2 separate regions of the Homo sapiens genome follow, and region 2 is linked to region 1. Evidence: fine-mapped expression QTL. A gene starts in region 1. The other region holds a variant in brackets. All regions are shown on one strand. Distances are between the middles of the regions.

Region 1 (8,000 bases):
ATGTTTGTTCAATTTCTATAATACTGACGAGGCAGTTTTTCTGACTCTGCCCTCTGTATGGGATTTACTGGTTCCTCCGTAACAAACAACATTGTTTCAATCAGCAAATGCTTACTCAGGGCCTAAGTATAAAGGGTATTGTGCTGGATGTTTTAAAAATCATGGGGAAAGTTCCAGGCCCCCAGAAATTCATGGCGCTCACAAGAGTAGATCAGCATAAATGTGTCAAGTTGCTTTGAAAGATTGAATTTCCAATTGAAATAATTTTCCTTTTGCACGCATAACTCTTGAGATTTTCAAGTGGTTTTTACTTAATGACAGCATAGAACCAACTTTATTTTAAAAATTGTAAGTGTGTTAAGGGAGAACACAGAAATCTGTGTTGCAGGCTTTGGCCGTACACACTATGTGTTACATGCTGAAGTTTAGAACCCTGATACTCCTAAAGAATTTATATTATTAATTTCATGGATCCTATTTCACAAACATCTCCATTTTGGTCTAGAGGGTTTCTGCTTGTTTCCTTGGTTTTTGGTTATGTTTTGATATTTAGAGTATGACTTGCCGTTTTTATTATTATTATTATTAAGTTTTTTAGGATCATTTCCGAAGCTGTAGTTTTTGCCTTTTGCCTCAAAACACAGAAAACTTAAATATTTTGGTGAAGAGAAGTTCCCTTTCTCCATCTCTTTCTTCCTCCTTTTTTTTTTAAATTGCAGAATTGTAACAACCACACAAATAAAATAAAGAAATAGAACACTGGCAGCTCTGCGGAAGCTCCTGTAGTCATCTCTCCAAATCGCTACTGGCCTTCCCCTCCAAATGAAATTGCCATCCTCACTTTGTGGCAGTCCGTTCTCCGAGCACCTCTTCCTTTTCAGGCGGGTCTGTAATTCTAGAGTGTGTGTAGTAGTATTGCCCTGGAGTCTTCAGTTACATTTCTCTAGTTACTAATGAGGTTGGACTCCATTAAAATTGTTTTTCTAAGTGGTATTCACATATTCTGTCCAATTTTCTTTTCAGCTGTCTTTTGTTTTTAATTTAAATAAACGTTGAATATTAGCCTTTGTTGGGTAAATGTGTTAAAAATATTTTCTCCCTATTTATGTTTTTTTTTTTCTTTTTTCTTTATGGTTAAAACTTTTGTGTCTTGCTTAACAAGCCCTTCTTTCCTTTTATGAAGTAAGAAAGATACTCTCCTATTGTTTCTTCTATCCATTTTATGATTTGACATTTGACATACAGATCTATAATCTATCAGGAATTGTTGTGTGTATAGCATTAGGCAGAGTCGAGTTTCACTGTTTGCTCCACATGGATAGCAATCAATTATTCTTCCCCAGTGCTCTCACATGCCAATTTTGTCATAAATTAAGTGGCTAATTATGCAAGCTGGAGTAATATTATTTTCTTTCTCCTTCCTTCCTATTCTCTGAAAGCGTGTACGTGACATTGGAGTTATTTAATCCTTAGAATTTTGGAAACATTTAGTGGAGAAACCATCTGATTCTGGAATTTTCCTTGTAGGAAGGCATTCAATTACAAATTCCATTAATTTAACATTTACGGTGTTATTTAGCTTTCCTACTTCTTTTGTCCATTTTCGTTAGTTCTTTTTTTTTTAAGAATGTATTTGTTTATGTAAATTTGTAAATTTATCTTGGTGTAAAACTGTTTGTAATATTCTCTTACTATTTTTAATTTCAGCCAGATCTGTATTGATGTCCCCTTTTCAATCTAAAATCTGTTATTTGTGCCAATTTTCTCTATTTCTCTATCCCCTTGCAAGAAAATTTTCAATCTTATTGTTTTCAAAGATAATTTTTTAAAAGATAAACAACTTTCTCTTTCCTTCCTTTCTATCCCTTCACATTATTTTATTTGTTTTATATTTCAATAACTTATGTTCTTATTATCACTATCATATCTTTCCTTCCATTTTCATAGTATTTAGTTTTTGTTCTGTTTCTAATTTCTAGACCCTTTTAACACTCATCGTATTTGTTCTCTTGTGATGCAAAGGTTTGAAGCCATACATTTCCATTTCTTAAGAGATCTTTTGCAGTAACATGGATGGAACTGGAGGCCATTATCTTAGGTGAAATAACTAAGACACAGAAAGAAAAATGCTACATGTTCTCACTTATAAGTGGGAGCTAAATAACGTGTACACTTGGGCACAGAGTGTGGAATAATAGACACTGGAGACTCAGAAGGGTGGCAAGGTGGGAGGATGGGATGGAATGAAGCATATGAAACGACTTAATCAGGACAATATATACTATTCAGTTGATGTGGACACTAAAAGCCCAGCCATGGCCACGATGCCATACAGCCACATATTGACCATACCGACACTGTACCCGAGCCCCTTCCACTCATACACAAAAGACATTAGACATGTCCTAAAAGTTCTGTTGTCATATTTGCATTGTCATTAGTTAAAATATTTTGCTTTTTAATTTATTTTGTGATTTCTTCTTGAATACATTGATTACTTAGAGATTTTATTTTATCTTATTTTTTTAGACAAAGTCTGGCTCTGTCACCCAGGCTGGAGTGCAGTGGCGCGATCAGGGCTCACTGCAAACTCCGCCTCCTGGGTTCAAGCAATTCTCCTACCTCAGCTTTCCGAGTCGCCGGGATTAAAGGCATATACCACCAAGCCCAGCTGATTTTTGTATTTTTAGTAGAGATGGGGGTTTCACCATGTTGGCCAGGCTGGTCTCGAACTCCTGACCTCAGGTGATCTGCCTGCCTCGGCCTCCCAAAGTGCTGGGATTGCAGGCGTGAGCCACCGCGCCTGGCCTAGAGATGTAATTTTTGACGTTCAAATATATGAGCACTGTTTTTGCTGCTTTTTAATATTTGCACATTGTATCTTTTTCTTTTCTATCCCTTTACATTTACTCTTTCAGAATCCTTATGTTTTACTGTTTTCAGAAAACTTAGTTTTTAAAATATTCTGCTAATCATTTTTCATATAAGTTTACATTAAATAAGCCTTTTAAAGTTTATTATAATTAAATAAAGTTTATTTTCACATGTGTTTTCATATCTACTGTCTCAGAACTTTCTCCTTGCCCTATTTTTCCTATTTTATCCCCTTTTTGCATCTTTTGAGTTGACTTTTTATGATTTTATTTTTCTCTCTTTACTAGTTTGGATATTATCTACCCCACTAATATTCTTTCAGGGGTTACCTTTGAGGTTACAACTGGCAAGGTAGGTTTATCAGTGTATAATATTAAATATTATTTTACCCCTCCAAATTTTACTGCCTTTTTAGTTATTCTTTATTCTTTCCTTTATCTCTAAGCATTCTGAGTCTGTCAGTGTTTAATTCCTTTCATTTTTATTTTTTTTCCTAAAAATATCCTTAACTCCCTTTCATTATTACAGGAATTTTTGGGGGGCAGTTATTTTATTTGAGCATGTTAACTATGTTATTTCATTGTCTTTGGACTTCAGTTGCTACTTTTCGAAGATAGTACATATTTTTACCTCTAACTGCTTTTAAAATTAATTCTCGGTCTTTATTTTATAGGTGTTTTACTATGATACACCTAGGAAAGTTTTATGTATCCTACTTAGGCTTTGCAAAGGTTTCTGTTTCATTTTTACAAACGTTGGATTGATTATGGTGTAATTTAGAGACAGTGAGATTCACCTTTTTTAGACATACACATCTGTGCATCTGCAGACATGAGCACTCCAGGTTGTCTATAACACCACATGTCCTTCTGAACTTCATCTCCTGCCATTACGCCCAGCCTCCAGCAACCACTCAGCTGTTTTCTGTCTCCAGCTTTGCTTTTCCCCAAATGTTACATAAGCAGGATCACACTTAGTCTTTTGATTTTTTTTTTTTAACCTCAACACAATGCTTTAGCCATCCCTTTTTTTTATGATGCTCATTATAGTTGATCACTCTTATTTATTGCAGGCTTCATCCATGTGCTAGTTCAGCCTGTGAGATGCTGGTGAGCCCACCTCCAGGCACTCACGGACTCCCCACCCATTGAGTGTGGCCTGGATTTAGTGACTCAATCAAACGTGACAGAGTGCTGGGGTGTCATTTTCAAGACTGGGTTATGTGAAGACTGCAGCCTCCATCTGGGGTGCTCTCTCTTGGATTGCTTGCTCAGGGATGTGGGGAGAGCTGCTGTGCTGGGAGGCTGCCCATGTGAGTTGACTTGGATGTGAACCTTCTGTGGCCTGCCAATAGCCACGTGAGTGACCTTGAAAATGGATCAGCCTTCACTCAAGTCTCAAGATGACTGTGGTCTTGGCTGACAGCTTGATTGCTGTCTCATGGGGGACCTTAAACCAAAGGCACCCTGCTAAGCCACACACAGCTTCCTGGCCCACAGAAACTATGAAATAATAACCATTTCTTATATAAGCCTCCAAGTTTTGGGAGTAATATTTTGCACAGTGATGGATCACTAATACAAGCCAGTCATCAGTTGAAAGACACTGAATTTATTTCCAGTTTTATGTGATTATGAATAATGTCACCATATGCATTTGCATACAGGTGTTTGTGTGGACACTGCTGTCATTTCTCTTGGGAAGATACTGAGGAGTCAGATTGCTGGATCCCGTGAAGAATGTATGTTGAATGTTATAAAAATCTGCCAACTTAAATCTGTTTCCTGGTGCTCTTTCGTCAGCATTGGGAGATGCTCTAACATTTCTCACCAAGTCTTTCTTCTGCTCATGCGCTCCCTCTTCTTTCCCTAAGACTTCAATCATCCTCCTCATTGCCCTTTATATCTCTAAACCATTGTCTGGAGTTTCCATTCTTCCCTTTTGCTTCAATCTGTTTCATTCTGGGGATTTTCTGAGTTATCTTCCACTTCTCCAGTTATTTTTTATTTGTTTTGTTTTTAAACAACTATATCTAATTAAATTTAACTTTATCCTCTGTTGTACTCAATTTTATTACTGCATTTTCCAATTTCAGAATTTCCATTTGACGATTTCCTTATAGTTTCCTATTTCTGCTGAAATTCTCGTTGTTTTATTTCGTGGGGGGCTGAGTAAACATACTTATTTTAAGGCATGTGTCTTTGAATTCCAACCTTTTGAATCCCTGTGGACATATTGCAATTGGCTGCCGTCTCTGCTTTTAATTTTTTATCTTATTTTGTGTGCTCCTATGCCTGGTTATTTCTAACTGTGTTGGACTTTGCATTTGAAAAATGGTTTCTATGAATGTTTTGAAGCCTAGGATGCTATTACTGCCCTTTGGGGAAAATGTACACGTGTTTCTCCCAGGTACCTGTAGGCCTGGTTACATCTGGGCAACTCAACATGGTTCTTGGTTCTGGTTCACTCTGACTCTTGGGAAGAACACTTGAAGGCCCCACCCCAAGGCCTTGGTGGGGCCACGACTCAGTTTCTTGCCCTGTAATTTGAGAAGGCAGTCAGAAGCACAACTTGACTTCTTAGCTGCCTTCTCTGAACAATGTGGGTACCCTTATGTCCCCATGAGCCAAGCTTCAAGTGTGGGCTTCCTTGCTTCGGCTCACCTTGCACCCCACTCCCAGGTCTTCAACTGCTTCCCAGCATTTCAGCATCATGATGGTTCTCCCACGCCTCTAATTAGACTAAACAAACATGCTTTTCCCAGCCCTGCGGGAGGCCCTCAGGAATAGTTGGTCTGAGTCTTCCCATCAGTTATTCCCAGACGCCTTTGTCTTCTTTTATTTGTGAGAGAAAATACTTGCGTGATCCTCAGCTTTTGTACCTGCAATCAAGCCACTTTCTAAATGTGGCACTCATTGATGTACTTAAAATACCTGAAGCCAGTCTGGCACTTATCATTTCTTTAATATTATTTTCCTTCACATTTCTTAGTTTCCAGAATAATTTTTTAATTAAAAATATTGGTAGAGAATCTATTGCCTTCTTCTGCTCAGTATAAGACTAATTTTGGACCAGTTCTTTTAGATTAACACTCCATAAAATTTCGGAAAAGTCAACAAGGAGTGAATAGAATTCCAATTCTTTAACTGAAGCAATCATATGCTGACAATAATACTTGCAGGGGAGTTTCATGGTTTATATTCTATTTTCCAGTTCTTAACCCTACTTCATTTTCATATTTTAAATCCATTCCTCCCAGAAAGTTGATACAGCCTAAAACTTTTGTACATTTACTTCTGAGTTTAAAAAGTGCTTACCATTTGAGATGGAATTTCCATTTTCAGCAGTTATAGCACTAGATAGTGAATTAGATAACTGAATTCCATGGTTATTTGCATTTCTGTCTTGAGTCTCGGAAGTAATTTCTGACGTACTAGGGTCATCTCGGCTACTTATGTTCATGTTAGTTTCAAAACCTAAAATAAATTTTAGAAAACATAATTATTTTCTGATAACATGTACTGAATATACTGAATAAAACATTTGGAGAAAATAATAAAACATCAAATCAAACATTCATGACATTTAAAATAATAATAATCTTTAATAAAATTTGTAGCCTATATAATATTCACCAAATTTTGCCACAACAATGTCAAACAAAAAGGAAAATGTCAAGTGGTAACAATAATTTGTTGCATTCAAACATATTTATAAAGAATTTTTGATGTCATAGATCAAATAACTTGTCATTATAGTATTGCCTGTCATGAGAAAGCAATGAGTTCATGTTTCAGGAGTTTTCTGAATGATTACATTTAAATAAATTAAGGCAATCTTACAGCTTTGGAAAAAATAAGAAACACTTGAGTGATAAGAAACACTATAGTGATATTTTCAACATCACTATAAACACTTTTAGTGTCCATGTTGGAATACTGAACTTCAATACTCGACTTCCGCATTCTGCACACTAAGATAATTACTTAAATATGTAATGCTTGTCCTATGTTAAGTGTTTTGAGAGGTACGAACACGAAAGCCACTGTCCAAATTCCACTGAAGGGCCTGATGAAGACTTTTTAAAGTGATGTAATATTAATAAAGTGAAACACAGCAAATGCTTCTATTTGGAAAAATGTCCAATGGAGGTAGGTTTCCCCATGGTCACTGCATTACCCTTAGGCACAAAATCAGACTTTGCAAATCAGGCACAACTGCCATCAAGGGGCCAGACATCCCCCCATCACCACCTCTGCCAAGTTCCCTTTCTCTGACTTCACAGGTGCACCTGGGATTGGCTCTTGCTTCCTAAGGAACCTCAAAAAAGCTGCAACCTATTGGAGACTTTTGATTCAGCATCAAGGATATGCGTGAGACTTTGGTTCTTTTCTGTTGGGACACAGTTGATTCTGACTGTCTTAAAGTTAGGCTTTTCTAAAGATTTAGACTAATAAATTATTTGAATGGGACAACACACATCATTTGCTTTATTATACTTTAAATATGGCAGAACGGTGTATTACCACCCCAATCCCAATCACCGGTACCTCCATAGGCAGAGATGTTATCCTTATTTTGCTGAAGAAGGAATTAGGGTTACTCAGAGTCATGCAGTTGGAAAGAGATAGAATGGAACTTTAACCTGTATGTTCTGATTATTATTCAGTCTTTATTTTTCATTAAAAGACAAATTGGATTATGTCATTTCCATGCTGAAAAGTTTTGGATAAACTGCTGTTGGTTGCAATCTACAGAAAGAAGGTAGGAAGGAGACAGGGAGGGAAGGAGGGAGGAAGACAGGAAAACAATGAAAGAAAGCAAAAAAGGAAAGAAAGGGAGGGAGGGAAGGAGGGAGGTGGGAGGGAGGGAGGGAAGGAGGGAGTGGGGAGGGATGGAGGGAAGGAAGGAAGGAAGGAAGGGAAGGTTCCATCTCCCCAGAGCTTATCTCTCAAGGCTGGTCTTGACTTGGTCCCTCTTAACTCCTACCTTGACATTATCTCCTCTTGCCTCTCGAGACATACCCTCAAATAGCACTACAAGCAATGCATGTTTATCCAAATTCTCCATATTGACTCCTGTTTTCTTGCTTTGGTGCACTCAAGCCCTCTCCCGCATCAACCCCA
Region 2 (17,022 bases), 99 kb before region 1:
CCCAGGGTGACTTTAGAGTGGCCTCTCCTGTGTGCTCATTTGGAAAATCAGAAGGAAGATGACGCAGGCTTGATTCTGTCCGGCTCAGATGTTCAAGAACATTGTGATCACTTCAGATAATGTTTATCTTATTTATGATGTTGCACAGATGTTCAAGAACATTGTGATCACTTCAGATAATGTTTATCTTATTTATGATGTTGCACTGACACAGACTGTCAAGGCTGAATTCCTACCCTGCCTGTCAACAAGTAAACAAGTCCTTAAGCGGATTATGGGAACTAACTAAGGAGTAATTAGAAGCATTTTGTCAAGTCACTAGAATGGAATCCCAGGGTGGACCCTTTAGGAGAGGGAGAGTTCTTTGATAATGCAAACACATTCTTTAGATTCCAGGTTCCAGTGTGGCTTCTGGGTGGCAAAGTGAGAGGAGCTTGCTTTGGAGAAGTGGAGCTGGCCTTAGGAAGGCGTGTTTGACTCTGTTGACAATTATCAGTCAGGAGCTAGATCTGGGTAGGACAGTTAGAAACACTGACATAATTCTTACTTTGTTTTGTTGGCCTTAAGAATAAAAATTTTAAAATACAGATGATTATTCTATACTTTCAGGTTTATTATCAACCTGTAGCACTCAAAAGCTTTCAATTATTGTTAATATATTTGAGTTAAATATCAAAGTAATAGGCATTACTTACTTTTAGAAAATTGCAACCAATAAGAGGCATTTCATTTGTCGTGCATTTAACTTTTGAGACATAATGAATAGTTTCCTAAAACTTTTCAAAGCTGAATGTTATGGAAGAAACATTCTCACCATAACTCTTAAAAATTGCATATCCTTACAAGTGAATACCATATCAAAATATGAAAATCATTTCAGATATTTATTAACTACTTAAAACTGACAAATGGTAAACAGAAATGTCATTTCTTTCATTAGTACAGAGAAAGCTCCCTCACTCCTCCCAAATATCTATTGTGATGAATTGGTTGATTATTTTAAACAATGTAGTTGCACAAATAGACATTAATGTGAATGATGATAGCATGTCACTTCTGAGGAATTGCATTTAGGAGGTACGTGTATGACAGCTTATGTGTAATCTTCAGGCTTGTATTTATGCCACAAGAAAATAGACTTTCTTCAATGATTCACTTCATCACAGGTGGCCTACCTACCTGAAAGACATCTTCATGCCAAAGTTGGCTGACTTTCTCATGCACAACGAACCCATATTCCCGTAGGAATTGAAGGATATGACTAATCAGTTGAAAACAGTTCTTTCATTTGTTTAACATGTCAAACTCAGGAACAAGCCCCAAGGTTCAAGTTTTACTGAAAGACTTTTACCATAGTGCTTTTTTGACATAGAAAAGAAAAACAGAACAATAAAAAAAAGAAAGTCAACAATTTTTTCAGTGAAGAGACTCACAGAGATTGAAGGTTCTCCGAAAACATTCAGGCCAATGCATCATTTTACATATGAGAAAACTGAAGTCCAGAGGTGACAAAATTTGACAAATCTACATAGCTAAAATGAAACCAAACAGACTCGTAATCCTACTTGGTGCTGGAGGGAGGCTGCAATCTGGGGAACTTGTTATCCAGACATCCCAGCTGGTAGAGTGTGCTACTACATAGATAAAGTCACTGTGGTTAGTGTCTAGCCTCAGCTTTAAAGTTCTGGAAAATCAAATTTGTCAATATTCCCATGGTTATTTAGAGTTAGGGGAACTAATATAAATTCCAAAATATAAATTTATAAAAGAAAATATTGTGACTTTTCTTGTTCTCTATGTAGAACATGCCCATAATCTTCCATAATCATCCTTATGACATGCAGCATCCTTACAATGACTGAGAAGTGGTAAATTTGGAAGCTTCTTAGGTGAGTGTCGAGAGGGCCGAGGAACAGAATAGTCTCGGGACATCTAGTCATCCCAATTTTACAATTGAGCTATAGGCTGATAATACCACTGTCTCTGTTCTCTAAATAAGCATGGCAAAATTGTGGTTTTCTGAATGTCGTTCATCAATAATCCAAGCTGGCTTTTTCACAGTTAGTGTCTAGATAAGGTTCAACAACATACATGTGGTTTCTCATGGTTGTATTTTATTTACATTCTATTCCCCCTTTCAGACCAATCAATCACCTTGATTGAAGTTCTGACTGTGGTCTTGCTAAGAATTCTTCTGGAATATGATCCCTTTTGCTTGTCTCTTCAGCTTGCTTGGCAACTTTCTACCCACTTTCCTCAAAATTCCGAGACATCAGACTCACCTCCAGTTCATCTCCAGTTCATGTGACAGCTGCTGTCCCTGCTGGTGAAGTGGCTGTGCTGTCTGGGGTATACACCCTGGGGTTCATCGTCACACACCAAGAATTCAGGACACAATCACATGTGGGTGGGTTAGGGAGTGGAAAATTTAATAGATAGAAGAAAGGAGAGAGGAGAGCAGCTCTTAGAGAGAGAGAGAGAGAGAGACATCTGAAAAGTGGGGAGGCAGTGGACCAAAACAGATATAATAAGTTGGAGAAGGCGGTGTCTGATTTACATAGGGCTCACAGACTGGTTCCATCAGGTATGACGTCTACATAGTGTGCGGGGGAAGGCTGGTTGCCCCACCCTAATCTAATTATGCAAATAGGCTTTCCAGTTGATCAGAGCCATCTTCTCTGCTCCTTACAATACACTTGGCTGGCAGGGAAGGGAAGATGGAGCCACCAGTTTGAAAATGTCTAGTCCTTAGTTCCTGCTGGCATTCACCTATGCAAGCTCCCAGCTTGCAGGCTGCTCTTTGTTAGAAAATGACTTGGGGCTGCTTTTCATTAAAAAGAAAAGCCTTACCCAGGACTCCCATGCCCTTGCTATCTGCCTAAGCAATTCCTTCTTAACTCCTATATCCCTGGGGAGATGGTAGGAGTGCTGCCCCTGTCTCCTTGCTTGAGAGGGGAACTGCCCCAGGGAACCACCGCCATCTTTCTCTATTGCCTGTGTGACTGCAGCATGGTGAGGTTCTAAGTCCCTGTACCCCTTTTGACTAAGGATGTTTTCCTTCTTCCCCATGATTTTGCTGGAGAATGAGAGGCAGAATTAAAACGTGCTGCATTTGTATTCAGATGTAAAGTTTGTGTCTCTGCAGAAAGCATTGCTTGTGTAGAGAAGGAAAGCATATTGTTTTAGTCCACAGGGGAGCTAGAAATGTGATCAGTCATCAGAATAAGGCAGATGTGTGCTAAATATTTCAGTCACTTATTAGCAGATAATTTATTGGCTTATTATCAAATGTAGCAAATATTTGCCATGTCTGCTTTGGGTTACTTTTTTTGGGAAGCCTTAGGCCGATTTTTGGCAACAGGGATTGAAAACATTTTACCACTTCCCTTACTGAAAAGGCCTTGTTGCCTGGGTGGGTGCCCAAGTCGTTGGTCTCACAGCTGAGGAAATCGACGATGCAGACACACCAAGGACGAGGTCAGAGCAGAAGCAGAAGTTTAACAGGTGAAAGAAAGAGAACAGTTCTCTGCTGCAGAGAGGGGTCCCAGAAAGGGTTGCCGTCCCACAGTAAAATGAAAGGGTTTTTTTCATGCGCGTCCGTGTGAAGAGACACCAAACAGGCTTTGTGTGAGCAACATGGCTGTTTATTTCACCTGGGGGCAGGCGGGCTGAGTCCGAAAAGAGAGTCAGCGAAGGGAGATAGGGGTGGGGCCGTTTTATAGGATTTGGGAAGGTAATGGAAAATTACAGTCAAAGGGGGTTGTTCTCTGGTGGGCAGGGGCGGGGGTCACAAGGTGCTCAGTGGGGGAGCTTCTGAGCCAGGAGAAGGAAATTCACAGGGTTAATCACTCAGTTAAGGTGGGGCAAGAACAAATCACCATGGTGGAATGTCATCAGTTAAGGCGGGGCAGGGCCTTTTCAGTTCTTTTGTGATTCTTCAGTTACTTCAGGCCATCTGGGCGTATACGTGCAAGTCACAGGGGATGCGATGGCTTGGCTTGGGCTCAGAGGCCTGACATTCCTGCCTTCTTATATTAATAAGAAAAATAAAACAAAATTGTGTTGAAGTGTTGGGGCGGTGAAAATTTTTGGGGGGTGGTATGGAGAGAGAATGGGCGATGTTTCTCAGGGCTGCTTCAAGCGGGATTAGGGGCGGCGTGGGAACCTAGAGTGGGAGAGATTAAGCTGAAGGGAGGTCTTGTGGTAAGGGGTGACATTGAGGGGGTTGTTAGAAGAAACATTTGTCATACAGAAAGATTGGTGATGGCCTGGATACGGTTTTGTATGAACTGAAAAACTAAATGGAATAAGAGAAGGAGAAAAACAGGTATAAAAGGACTAAGAATTGGGAGGATCTAGGACATCTAATTAGAGAATGCCTAAGGAGGTTCAGCATAGTCCTTCCAGCGAAGATTATTTATTTACTTCAAGAGTTAAGAGTGGCAGTTTGGGGATAGCATGAGGAGATATCAGCCATGATGGCTTGGAGAAACAGTGTAAACTGGCAGTGTAAACAAGAGCAGGGCATGTATGAGTAGTTGAGAACGGAGAATAGGAGTATGACTAGACGGAAAATAGTAGGGATGACAAGTTTTTTTGGGGGCACAGTCTAAGTTGGTCTGGTGTCTGGGATGAGACTGGGGCCTAATAAAAAGGAGCTTAAATGGACTGTACCTTGTAGCATTCTGAGGACAGGTCTGACTTCTGAGAAGGGAAAGTGGTAAAAGTATTGTCCAGTTCTTTTTAAGTTGGTGGCTGAGCTTGGTGAGGTGTGTTTTTAAAAGACCTTTAGTCCGTTCTACTTTTCTTGAAGACAGAGGACTATAAGGGATATAAACTGAAAAACTGCTTGGCTAATTTGACTAATAAAGCCTGGTCTGTTATCAGACTGTATAGAGGTGGGAAGGCTAAACTGAGGAATTATGTCTGACAGAAGGGAAGAAATGACTGCGGTGGCCTTCTCAGACCCTGTAGGAAAGGCCTCTACCTATCTAGTGAAAATGTCTACTTAGACTAAGAGGTATTTTAGTTTTTGTGACTCGGGGCATGTGGAGTAAAGCTAATTTGCCAGTCCTGGGCGGGGGCAAATCCTCGAGCTTGATGTGTAGGGAAGGGAGGGGCCTGAATGATCCTTGAGGAGTAGCAGAATAGCAGATAGAATAGCAGATGGAACACTGAGAAGTTATTTCCTTGAGGATAGATTTCTACAATGGAAAGGAAATGAGAGGTTCTAAGAGATGGGCTAGTGGCTTGTAATATGGGGAAATGGGGTGAATGTCAGGTGGATCAGAGAGATGCAGTCATGGGGATCAGGTGTGGTATCAGGAATAATGTGGGAGGCCAGATTGAAGTCTGGGCCAGGAACAATGGTAATTGTGGGACTTAACAAAGAATGAGTACAGCTGAAGGAGCCGGGGAGCAGAAAGTATATGCGTCAGGTATGAGGAAGAAAATAGATTTTGGAAGTTATGAGAAATGTAGAGAGTGAGTTGAACATAGTTTGTGATTTTTAGGGCCTCTAAAATTATTAAAGCAGCGGCAGCTGCTGCATGCAGACATGAGGGCTAGGCTAAAACAGTAAGGTCAAGTTGTTTGGACAGAAAGGCTACAGGGTGGGGTCCTGGCTCTTGTGTAAGAATTCTGACCGCACTAACCATGCCTAGGAAGGAAAGGAGTTGTTGTTTTGTAAGGGATTGAGGTTTGGGAGATTAATCAGACACCATCAGCAGGGAGAGCACCTGTGTTTTTGTGAAGAATTATGCCGAGGTAGGTAACGGATGGAGAAGAAATTTGAGCTTTGGAGGGGGATACCCGATATCCTTTGGAGAATAAATGCTGAAGGAGCAGAAGTATGTCTTGTTGAGAAGATTCAAAGGAGGGGCTACAAAGAAGAAGGTCATCAATATATTGAATAAGGTGAGAAGTGGAGGGGTGGAAAGAAAGTAGATCATGAGAAAGAGCTTGGCTGAAGTAATGAGGGCTGTCCCTGGAACCTTGCGGCAGCACAGCCCAGGTAAGCTGCTGAGCCTAATGGGTGTCAGGGTCAGTCTAAGTGAAGGCAAAGAGAGGCTGAGATGAAGAGTGCAAAGGAATAGTAAAGAAAGCATGTTTGAGATCCAGAACAGAATAATGGGTAGTAGAGGGAGGTATTGAGGATAGGAGAGTATATGGGTTTGGCACCACGGGGTGGATAGGCAAAACAATTTGGTTGATAAGGCACAGATTCTGAACTAAGTTGTAAGCCTTGTCTGGTTTTAGGACAGGTAAAACGGGGGAATTGTAAGGAGAGTTTATAGGCTTTAAAAGGCCATGCTGTAGCAGGTGAGTGATAACAGGCTTTAATCCTTTCAAAGCATGCTGTGGGATGGGATATTGGCATTGAGTCGGGTAAGCGTGATTAGGTTTTAATGAGATGGTAAGGGGTGCATGATCGGTCGCCAAGGAGGGAGTAGAGGTATCTTATACTTGTGGGTTAAGGTGGGGGAATACAAGAGGAGGACGCAAAGGAGGCTTTGGATTGGGAAGAAGGGCAGCAATGAGATGCAGCTGTAGTCCAGGAATAGTCAGGGAAGCAGATAATTTGGTTAAAATATCTCGGCCTGATAAGGGAACTGGGCAGGTGGAGATAACTAAAAAAGAGTGCATAAAAGAGTGTTGTTCAAGTTGGCACCAGAGTTGGGGAGTTTTAAGAGGTTTAGAAGCCTGGCTGTCAATACCCACAACAGTTATGGAGGCAAGGGAAACAGGCCCTTGAAAAGAAGGTAATGTGGAGTGGGTAGCCTCCATATTGATTAAGAAGGGGACAGACTTACCCTCCACTGTGAGAGTTACCTAAAGCTCGGTGTCCATGGTGGTCTACAGGGCTTCTGAGGCGATCAGGCAGCGTCAGTCTTCAGCCACTAAGCCAAGAAGGAGTCAGTCAGAGAGCCTTGGGCCAGAGTTCCAGGGGCGCTGGGAGTGGCTGCCAGGTGAGTTGAACAGTCCGATTTCCAGTGGGGTCCCGCACAGATGGGACATGGCTTAGGAGGAATCCCTGGGCTGCAGGCATTCCTTGCCCTGGTGGTCAGATTTCTGGCACTTGCAGCAAGCTCCTGGGGGAGGAGGTTCTGGAGGAATGTCTGGCCACTGCGGTTCAGGCATTTGGAAGTTGTTGTGTGCTGGAGATGTGGCTGGGGTTTGTCTCACAGTGGAGGCAAGGAATTGCAACTTCCTTTTTTTTATTATTGTACACCTTGAAGGTGAGGTTAATTAAGTCCTGTTGTGGGGTTTGAGGGCCAGATTCTAATTTTTGGAGTTTTATTTAATGTCGGGAGCAGATTGGGTAATAAAATGTGTATTGAGAATAAGATGGCCTTTTGACCTTTTAGGGTCTAGGGCTGTAAAGCATCTCAGGGTTGCTGCCGAACGAGACATGAACTGGGCTGGGTTTTTATATTTGATGAAAAAGAGCCTAAACGCTTCTGATTTGGGATAAAGAAAAAGGAGCATTAACCTTGACTATGCCTTTGGCTCCAGCCACCTTTTTAAGAGTAAATTGCTGGGCAGGTGGGGGAGGGCTAGTCACAGAACGAAACTGTAAGCCAGACCAGGTGTGAGGAGGGGAGGCGATAAAAAGATTACAGGGTGGAGGAGCGGAGGCTGAGGAAGAATTGGGACCTAGCTTGGCCTGGCAAGGAGGGGAGAGGTCAGATGGGTCTGTAGAAAAGGAAGATTAGAAAGACTCAGTGACGCTTGGGGTTGGGACTGAGGGGACAGGCGGGAGGGAAAGAAGGAAGATTCAGAATGAGTTGCACTGGGCACAGAGACTAGGAAGGGACTGATGTGTAAAAGAATGCCTGGATGTCAGGCACCTCAGACCATTTGCCCATTTTATGACAAGAATTATTTAGATCTTGTAGGATGGAAAAATTGAAAGTGCCGTTTTCCGGCTATTTGGAACTACTGTAGAGTTTGTATTGGGGTCAAGAGGCATTGCAGAAGAAAATGAGACACTTAGATTTTAGGTCAGGTGAGAGTTGAAGAGGTTTTAAGTTCTTAAGAATACAGGCTAAGGGAGAAGAAGGAGGAATGGAAGGTGGAAGCTTGCCCATAGTGAAGGAGGCAAGCCCAGAGAAAAGAGTAGAGACACGGAGAAGGGGTGGGGGTTTCTTGCCCTCCAGAAAAGCAGAGAAAGGGTTGGGGCACAGAAATAAGGGATTGGGGCACAGAGATAAGAGGTCAGGGTGTGGAAATAAGGGATTGGGGGTTCTTGCCCCCTAGAAAAGTGGGAAGGGGGGTTGGGGCATGGAAATAAGGGATTGGGGCACAGAGATAAGAGGTTGGGGTGTGGAAATAAGGGATTGGGTCACAGAAATAAGAGGTCGGGGTGTGGAAATAAGGGATTGGGGGTTCTTGCCCCCTAGAAAAGCGGGACTTGCCACTAAGGGTGAAGGAGAAGGGGTTGAGGGGTACTTTCCCCTCCCCCAGAAAAGTGGGACTTGCCACTAAGGGTGAAGGAGAAGGGGTTGAGGGGTTCTTGCCCCTGCCCCAGAAAATCAGAGAAGGGGTAGAGACAAGAAGAGAAGGGGTTGGGGTACTTGCCCCTTCCCCAGAAAAGCAGGGAAGGGGTAGAGACACAGAGAGAAGGGGTTGGGGTACTTGCCCCTTCCCCAGAAAAGCAGAGAACGGGTAGAGACACAGAGAGAAGGGGTTGGGGTACTTTCCCCTTCCCCAGAAAAGCGGGACTTGCCGCTAAGGGTGAAGGACCAAGGCAGGCATCCCTGCATGGTCTGACACCCTTGAAACGTGGGTGAATAATCAGAGAGGTGTCCCTGCAATGATTAAACAGCAAGGGAAGGCTGCCTTCCCAGTCCGTGACCAGCGCTGGAGTTTTGGGTCCACAGATAAAACGTGTCTCCTTTGTCTCTACCAGAAAATGAAAGGAATTGAAACTAAGAGAAGGGAGAGATTGAAGTGTGGCGCCAAGATTGAAAGGAGAAAGAGGTTGAGGGATAGTGAGGGAGGTTGGAGAAGAGAGTAAAAAGAGGCGGCTTACTGGATTTAAAATTGGTGAGATGTTTCTTGGGCTGGTTGGTCTGAGGACCTAAGGTCGTAGGTGGATCTTTCTCATGGAGCAAAGAGCAGGAGGACGGGGGATTGATCTCCTAAGGGAGGTCCCCCGATCCGAGCCACGGCATCAAAGTTCACTCGAGTCC[A/G]TGTGAAGAGACACCAAACAGGCTTTGTGTGAGCAACATGGCTGTTTATTTCACCTGGGGGCAGGCGGGCTGAGTCCGAAAAGAGAGTCAGCGAAGGGAGATGGGGTGGGGCCGTTTTATAGGATTTGGGAAGGTAATGGAAAATTACAGTCAAAGGGGGTTGTTCTCTGGTGGGCAGGGGCGGGGGTCACAAGGTGCTCAGTGGGGGAGCTGCTGAGCCAGGAGAAGGAAATTCACAGGGTTAATCACTCAGTTAAGGTGGGGCAAGAACAAATCACCATGGTGGAATGTCATCAGTTAAGGCGGGGCAGGGCCTTTTCAGTTCTTTTGTGATTCTTCAGTTACTTCAGGCCATCTGGGCGTATACGTGCAAGTCACAGGGGATGCGATGGCTTGGCTTGGGCTCAGAGGCCTGACAGTTTTTATAAGTGACCTAGTGGGGAGGCAGTATTTTACCTACATAGGGTGTGAAAAAACAGTTAAGACCAGGTGTACCATCAGCATAGAGTGCGAATCTCTGGCAGCCCCCATCCCAGCCTTTTATTATGGAGGCGGGTCCTTTGCCTGAGCTACTCCATGTTGCTTTCCTACTGTGCAGGTGCAAAAAAAAGAAAAAGAAAAAAAAAAGTGGGAGGCGGAGCCCTCATGGTGCACATGACTGGCCCCAGGTACCCCTTTCTAGTGCGGCAGCTCCCAGCTGCAAGCTTCCAGCTTCCTTATCTATGTTTGCAGCACAATCTTCCAGGCTGCTCTTTGTTAGGAGACACGTGTTTTCTTGGGCTGCTTTTTGTGAGAAAGGAAGTTCTACTGAGGAATTTTGACCTAGCTATCTGCCTAGCTATTCTCTTTTTACTTCCTCGCTCACTATGGGGTCCAGCCAAATCCAGTGGCATTGGGAATGGAAAGGAAGCAAGAATGGCAGATTATGTGGGAAGGTTTCCAATCAGCTAATTGGACTTAAGGGACAAGGGAGAAGTCAAAATAATGATGGAAATGATGGCCAAGGGAAGGGTCTTATTGTTAAAGAAAGCTCTGGGAAGGGAGATAATAGGTGTTTATAGCTATTTCCTGAGCAATCTCTGTTAGCAGGAAAATTCTCTGAAGCCATGTGAAGGGAGGCAGTTGCCAGTGAGGGGAGTTGGTGAGAAATGCCAAAGCCCCCTGGATTAGATGAAGAAATTGTATTCTCCACAAGTTATCTTTGAAAGATGACTTAGTGTACATGATTGGGAATTATATCTTGATAAGCCCCTTGGTTGGTTCTGGGAGTGATTCCTTCAAGGGGAACGCTTGGGAAATAATATATAATAGTTAAATATTCTGGTAACTTCATGGGCTTTATTCAGCTGAGTGGGCATATGAGTGTGGGGATATCAAGGGTTTAGGACAATAAGGTGATCAAAGCACTGACTCGGTGGTCTTTTAATTCCTCCATTCTGTTCTTCCCTGTTCAGTGCTTAGCTTCTCTTAATATACATTTCACAAATATATTTATTCTGAGGAACTAAATTATTAGCCTGACTAGGTGTTCAAATGTTTCCATATAGGCCTTTCTGTTCCTTTATCTGGGATTACAGGCATGAGCCACAACACACAGCTTAACCCCTGTGTGACTATCTAGTCCATAGAACTTCAGAAAGTACAACCAAATAGGGTGAAAGTTCAAGTCTTGCGTCCTCTATAATCCTATCTTGCACCCTGTCCCTCACCAAATATTTTGAAGCAAATCCCAGACATCATATCATTTCCTCCATAAATATTTCAATATACATCTCTGAAAGTTTAGACCTCTTTCAAAAGGTTAATTTCCATATGATTATCATACTTAAAAATTAAAAATTATTCCTTAGGCAGGGCACAGTGGCTCATGCCTGTAATCCCAGCACTTTGGGAGGCCAAGGCAGGTGGATCATGAGGTCAGGCATTTGAGACCAGCCTGGCCAACATAATGATACCCCACTCTACTAAAAATACAAAAAATTAGCCAGGTGTGGTGGTGGGTGCCTGTAATTCCCGTTACTAGGGAGGCTGAGGCAAGAGAATCGCTTGGACCAGGAAGGCAGAGGTTGCAGTGAGCTGAGATCTTGCCACTGCATGACAGTCTGGGCGACAGTGCAAGACTCTGTCTCAAAAAAAAAAAAAAAATTATTACTTAATACTATTTTTTTTTAAAGTTGAAGTCTTGCTTTGTTGCCCAAGTTAGAGTGCAGTGGGGGCACTCTTGGCTCACTGCAACCTCTGCTTCCCAGGTTCAAGTGATTCTCCTGTCTCAGCCTCCCAAGTAGATAGGATTATAGGTGTGCACCACACGGTTGGCTAATTTTTGTATTTTTGGTAGAAATGGGGTTTCACTATGTTGCTCAGGCTGGTTTTGAACTCCTGACCTCAAGTGATCCGCCTGCCTTGGCCTCCCAAAATGCTGCGATTACAGGCATGAACCACTAAGCCCAGCCCCTTAATACTATTACATATCTACTAAGTGTTCTAATTTTCCTGATTCTCTTTTCTTCTTTTACAATTTGCCTGACTCAGAAGTCCCAAAGAGATCTATACCTTGCAGTTGATTGATTTATCTTTTAAACCTCTTTTTTTTTTTTTTTTTTGAGATGGAGTCTCGCTCTGTTGCCCAGGCTGGAGTGCAGTGGCGCGATCTTGGCTCACTGCAAGCTCCACCTCCCGGGTTCACACCATTCTCCTGCCTCAGCCTCCCAAGTAGCTGGGACTACAGGTGCCTGCCACCACACCTGGCTAATTTTTTGTATTTTTAGTAGAGATGAGTTTTCACCATGTTAGCCAGGATGGTCTCGATCTCCTGAACTTGTGATCCACCTGCCTCTGCCTCCCAAAGTGCTGTGATTACAGGCATGAGCCACCGTGCCTGGCCTAAACCTCTTTTAAGATATAGAACTTGTTGGCTTTTTCCTTGCATTTTATTGGTCGAAGAAACAGGTTGTTTGTCCTAAAGAAATTTTTACAGTCCAGATTGTGTTGTGTAATTCCTTTGAAACCTGAATTTCTTATAAACTAGTAAACCTAAACTTTTAGTAGGATTTGGGTTTTATTTACTGTATTTTACTCTGTATTCAAAAATACTTGTAGGCAGAATTATATTTGTTATTAGGAGGTGTACATTGTCTAGCCATCTCTTTTCTTTGTAAAGGTAGATGACTAATCTGACTAAATACATAAAAAAAAGAGAGTTACAAAATGGTGATGTCTTAATGTGATCATTTCTTTTAAATTTATTGTCTGTAGTGTATCTACAAACAATGCCTTTCCATTGTATATTATATGTTTACTTTGAGGTAGAATTATTATAGGAAAAGCAATGTAAGTTCTTGGTTATATCCTCTTATCCACTAGTTTTCAAAACAATAAATTGTTTTCCTTTCACTCTCTGAAGATGATCACTGAAATTTGACTTAAGTATTTGATATGGTTTGGCTCTGTGTCACCAACCAAATCTTATCTTGAATTATAATAATCCCCACACATTGTGGGAGTGACCTTGTGGGAGTTAATTGAATCTTGGGGGCAAGTTTTTCCCATGCTCTTCTAGTGATAGTAAGTCTCATGACATCTGATGGTTTTATAAAGGGGAGTTCCCCTGCACATGCCCTCTTGCCTGCCACCAGGTAAGACGTGCCTTTGCTTCTCCTTTGCCTTCTGCCATGATTGTGAGGCCTTCTCAGCCATGTGCAACTGTGAGTCCATTAAACCTCTCTTCTTTATAAATAACCTCATCTTGGGTATGTCTTTATTAGGAGCATGAGAACAGACTATTACAGTATTATTATAAACACATGAATTTACATGCTTAATGTAATTTATTTCATTTGTTAATCTTATTTGTGGCCAAATTTGCCCTCCATTGGCTAATGAAAAACTCTTGAATGTGGCTGTTGAATTATTTGCTCACGATTTCAATAGACTTTGTTAGCTTCTTACTGTCTGGGAAGAACAGACATTTCAGACTCATCTTTAACATTTTCTTTCTCAAGCTGAAAGCAATTATTTCACCAAGGAATTCTGGTTCCTTGCAGTGGGAAATCATATTTAGAGACCATGATCTTTGTGCTAGAGGTGCTAATTGCTACCGAGTTAGTCACTGTTTCTAGACTTTTCTAGAGGACAAAGCTAAGAAACACACACGCACATGCCCACACACAATGTATTCATAAAGATGATATACAATGTGAATTCATATTGATTACTAATTTTAAATACAATTTAAGACTACAGGTTATTATTCATCTCATCAACCTTACATCCGTATCTCATTCCTTTCATGGTGAAAACGCCAATCCTCAATGATAATAGTTCATTTGATTTATCTCACGATAATTACTCATTACATACAGAAAATAATGACATATTCTCAGAATAGTTATATCACTTCTGTCACAAATAATGTGATTATTGAAAAGAGTTGAAGATTGTTCTTCAGGTCTTTAGTATCTAACCCAATAGGGGGTATAGTAAATCAATATTCTTTAAAGTTACTTGAAATTTTTGTCTTTTTGTGAATATGCTACTAACCTGATAAACAGGTTCATTATTTTTTATTTGCTTTTGATTTTAAGAATGGCCTTTGTAATTTTAATTTTATTTAATATAATGTTAAGCATTTACATGAGTTATTTGTCAAATGTACAAAACAATGTATACTCAGGGAAGACTTGCTTCTATTCCTTTCTCTTGTATGTATTTAACCCTCTGTAGGTACAAATTTTTTAAGTTATTAAAATAAAACATGTTTTCTGTAGATATATATGTATATATACACACATACTCTTCTTAGTTAAATATTCTACACATTGAAGCTTCTAGAAGTATTCATCTTTTATTTGTACAGCTCTATAGTACTCTGTTGTGAGGACATAGCATAGTTTATTGAAATATTGGAAAACATTGTTCTTGCACCCTTTCTATTAGTCATAATGCTGCAAGGAATATAGTTGCACACCTCTATTTTTCATATTTTTGCCATGTACTTTTAGGATAGATCTCTGGAAATGAGATTGCTGGGTCAAAGATAAATGCTTAAGTCATCCTGTTACACATTTCCAAATTCCCTTTTTATAAGATAAGGTCATTTTGTATTTCTATCAATGTATGAGATTGTCTGTTTTTCTCCAGCTATTTTGCTTTAGTTTCCTCTTATTTTGCTAGTGTAGAGGAGGAATATGGCATCACAAAATTAGGGAGAATAAGTATCACAATATGTTGAATTGAGAAAACTTCTCATTCTAACAGAACCTATAAATCCTCAATTGTCTCTTGAGAAGAAGACAATACGTGCAGAAAGCATCACTAAAGATTTTAACTTTTTCATCGTCAGACTCTGAAAGTCACTCGTTAGAAGTCTGATCTAGCAATATCTCACGTGATTAATTAGTAATCTGGTATCAGCCAGTAAAGGCAAAAGCTACTTGCCTTCACTTACAAAATATGTCTTGCAGGTAAAAACATTTTAGTTATTTTGTATGCTAAGTCTGAATTCATTTTTTCTCATGTATGTTGTTAAGATGCCTGGAACAGTCATTTGTTGAGGTTATGTTTGGCCAGGTAGAGCTATTCATTTATTTTAAGATGTGTTTCTGAAGTATGGCTGTCATCTGATTGGTGTACCTACTCAAATTTCTCATAATGCAAACTGTTCCTTCCTGGTTGGCATTCCTCAAAGTTCACAAAATGACAACCAATTTCGCAAAAGGGTCATGTTCTAGATTCAAGTAGGACACATTCCACTAGAAAACAAAGTAAATTGTTTTTAAAGGAGGCTTGATAAAGAAATAAAATTTCCAGGTAATATGACATACAAGTGTTATATTCACATAACATTACACTTTTAAGCATTTGGAAAATGGAGACTGGTTCTTCCAGTCATTCATTCATTTATTTGTTATTTATTTATTTATTCAGCAAGTATTTTTTTAAGTATTTTTAAGTCCCAGTTATGGGCCAGTGTTATGGGAATTGTGTTAACTGAAGATACAAGACTAACCAAAGTAGACACAGTTATTAGCCACATAGAGTCAAACATTAAGAAATACTATTGAGATTAAGTCATAAATAACAAAATAGCAATAATTTGGATGAAGATCTCTGCACAAGTCACTGTTCAGTCTACCTCTGTCCCTTTGTTGAAGAGTTGCTTATATGTGCTGGCTCATTACTTTCTTTCATTTATGCCTAAATCCACTCAAAATTCTTTTCCTAAGATCTCCAGTGGGCTTCTGGTTCTGGCTAAAATGTAGTAACTGGTACTGAACTAGTCCTCCGGACATAAAGAGCTAGAGAAACTGAAAAAGAAATGGTTTTTAGACATTAAACAAAAGGCAGCATAGGAATATAATCCATGGCAGGAAAAAACTAATGTGGTGGGCCCTGGATGCCTTGGCTTTCTGCCTGGATAGTGCTTCTGGACCAAGGCCCCTGAAGAGGCAGCCTAAGCAGAACTTGGAGTCTCACTGAGATGAGGTGATAGAGATCAAAGTTCAGAAAGACTGAGAATAAAGGTACTTGCACAGGAAATGCACAGTTGAAATTTTTGGGGCAGGGTACTAGAGAGGAAGGGCCAAGCAGAGAAGGAGCTTCAGAATCTACTCAGAGTTTTCCCTGAGTCTTTGTCTGAATAGTAACCTGAACTTGTGTAGGGTACAGAACAACTATCAAGAAAAGATAACTGTCATGGAACTACAAACACAAACCACTGGAGCTCATGTAGAGCTGGGAGACATTTGGGCTCCAGCTAGCCTGAATGGAAAGACCAGGGCATTCAGTAGAGGCTCCACAAAGGCCACATCTTAAGTGCAGGGCTCACCTAGCCCCAGAGCAAAAGCTATTCTAAACCTTCTCTAACAAAGCTTAAAAACATCCTAAGAAAGACTGTAAAGGTCAAACATCCTCAAAGAGATTAATCTCCTTCCAGAACAAAGTACAGAGTATTTTAAAGGAAGACAGGAATCCAGACATTGAACAACAGTGGTGATGTCAAATATCCAATTAAAATTACTAGACATGTGGGGAAGCAAGCAAATGTGACCCTACCAAGAAAAAAAATCAGTTGATAGAAACAGAGCAGTGACTTTCTAGTTACCAAAGCTAATGATTTTAATTTAGTTGTGATCATCCTATTTGATCCATTTGGGAGGTACTTTGCTGATGATTACTCTTCCCCTCTCTTGGCATCTGTAACACAGAACATCCCTAGTTCCCTGACATTTCTACAAACCCACCTTCTCACTTCTTTATTGGCTCTTGTGTCTGCCTTATTTCTTTTTTTCTTTTTTTGAGATGAAGTCTCATTCTGTCACCCAGGCTGGAGTGCGGTGGTGTGATCTCGGCTCACTGCAAGCTCCACCTCCTGGGTTCACACCATTCTCCTGCCTCAGCTTCCTGAGTAGCCAGGACTACAGGTGCCTGCCACCACGCCTGGCTAATTTTTTGTATTTTTAGTAGAGATGGGGTTTCACTGTGTTAGCCAGGTTGGTCTCGATCTCCTGAACCTCATGATCCACCCACCTCGGCCTCCCAAAGTGCTGGGGTTACAGGTGTGACCCACTGCGCCCGGCCGTCTGCCTTATTTCTAAGTATTAGTGTTCCTCATGGCTTTTCTTTTCTTTTACTTCTTTCTGACTTATATTACAAGTTCTCTGAAGAGTCTCATTTATTCCCATGACTTGAATTAAACATTTTCTTTTTATAAGTTTTTGCTTGTATAATAAAAATATTTTAGTAATTATTATGGTTATTGTGTCCATATGCATTACACTTTATCAAATATTGTTATAGACTTTCTTTTGATTCCTGTGCAACCTGTGTG

Which allele goes with the higher level. Positions count from the first base shown, and alleles are read on the strand shown. Sizes are in standard deviations (SD) of each study's normalised expression.
With allele A in place of G in region 2, the expression in esophagus muscle of the gene that starts at base 3,948 in region 1 is higher (moderate effect, 0.72 SD a copy in GTEx).

The links.
Region 2: its variant is fine-mapped to the expression of MYO16-AS1 in esophagus muscle (GTEx, PIP above 0.99). The same link has a PIP of 0.9 or more in testis.

What each region holds. Positions count from the first base shown.
Region 1 is chr13:109,163,251-109,171,250 of GRCh38, reverse strand. It overlaps MYO16-AS1 (MYO16 antisense RNA 1), which reads left to right and starts at 3,948. Exons shown (of 3, transcript NR_047700.1): 1 at 3,948-4,232; 2 at 4,541-4,615; 3 at 7,160-7,346. It overlaps MYO16 (myosin XVI), which reads right to left. Exons shown (of 35, transcript NM_001198950.3): 33 at 6,192-6,350.
Region 2 is chr13:109,257,680-109,274,701 of GRCh38, reverse strand. LINC03061 (long intergenic non-protein coding RNA 3061) reads right to left here and starts at 9,215. Exons shown (of 2, transcript NR_185883.1): 1 at 9,035-9,215; 2 at 3,627-7,091. LOC130494219 (a long non-coding RNA gene) reads right to left here and starts at 2,499. Exons shown (of 2, transcript NR_185888.1): 1 at 2,283-2,499. RefSeq lists enhancers at 3,227-3,955, 6,473-7,431. The variant A/G (reference allele first, on the strand shown) is at 9,195.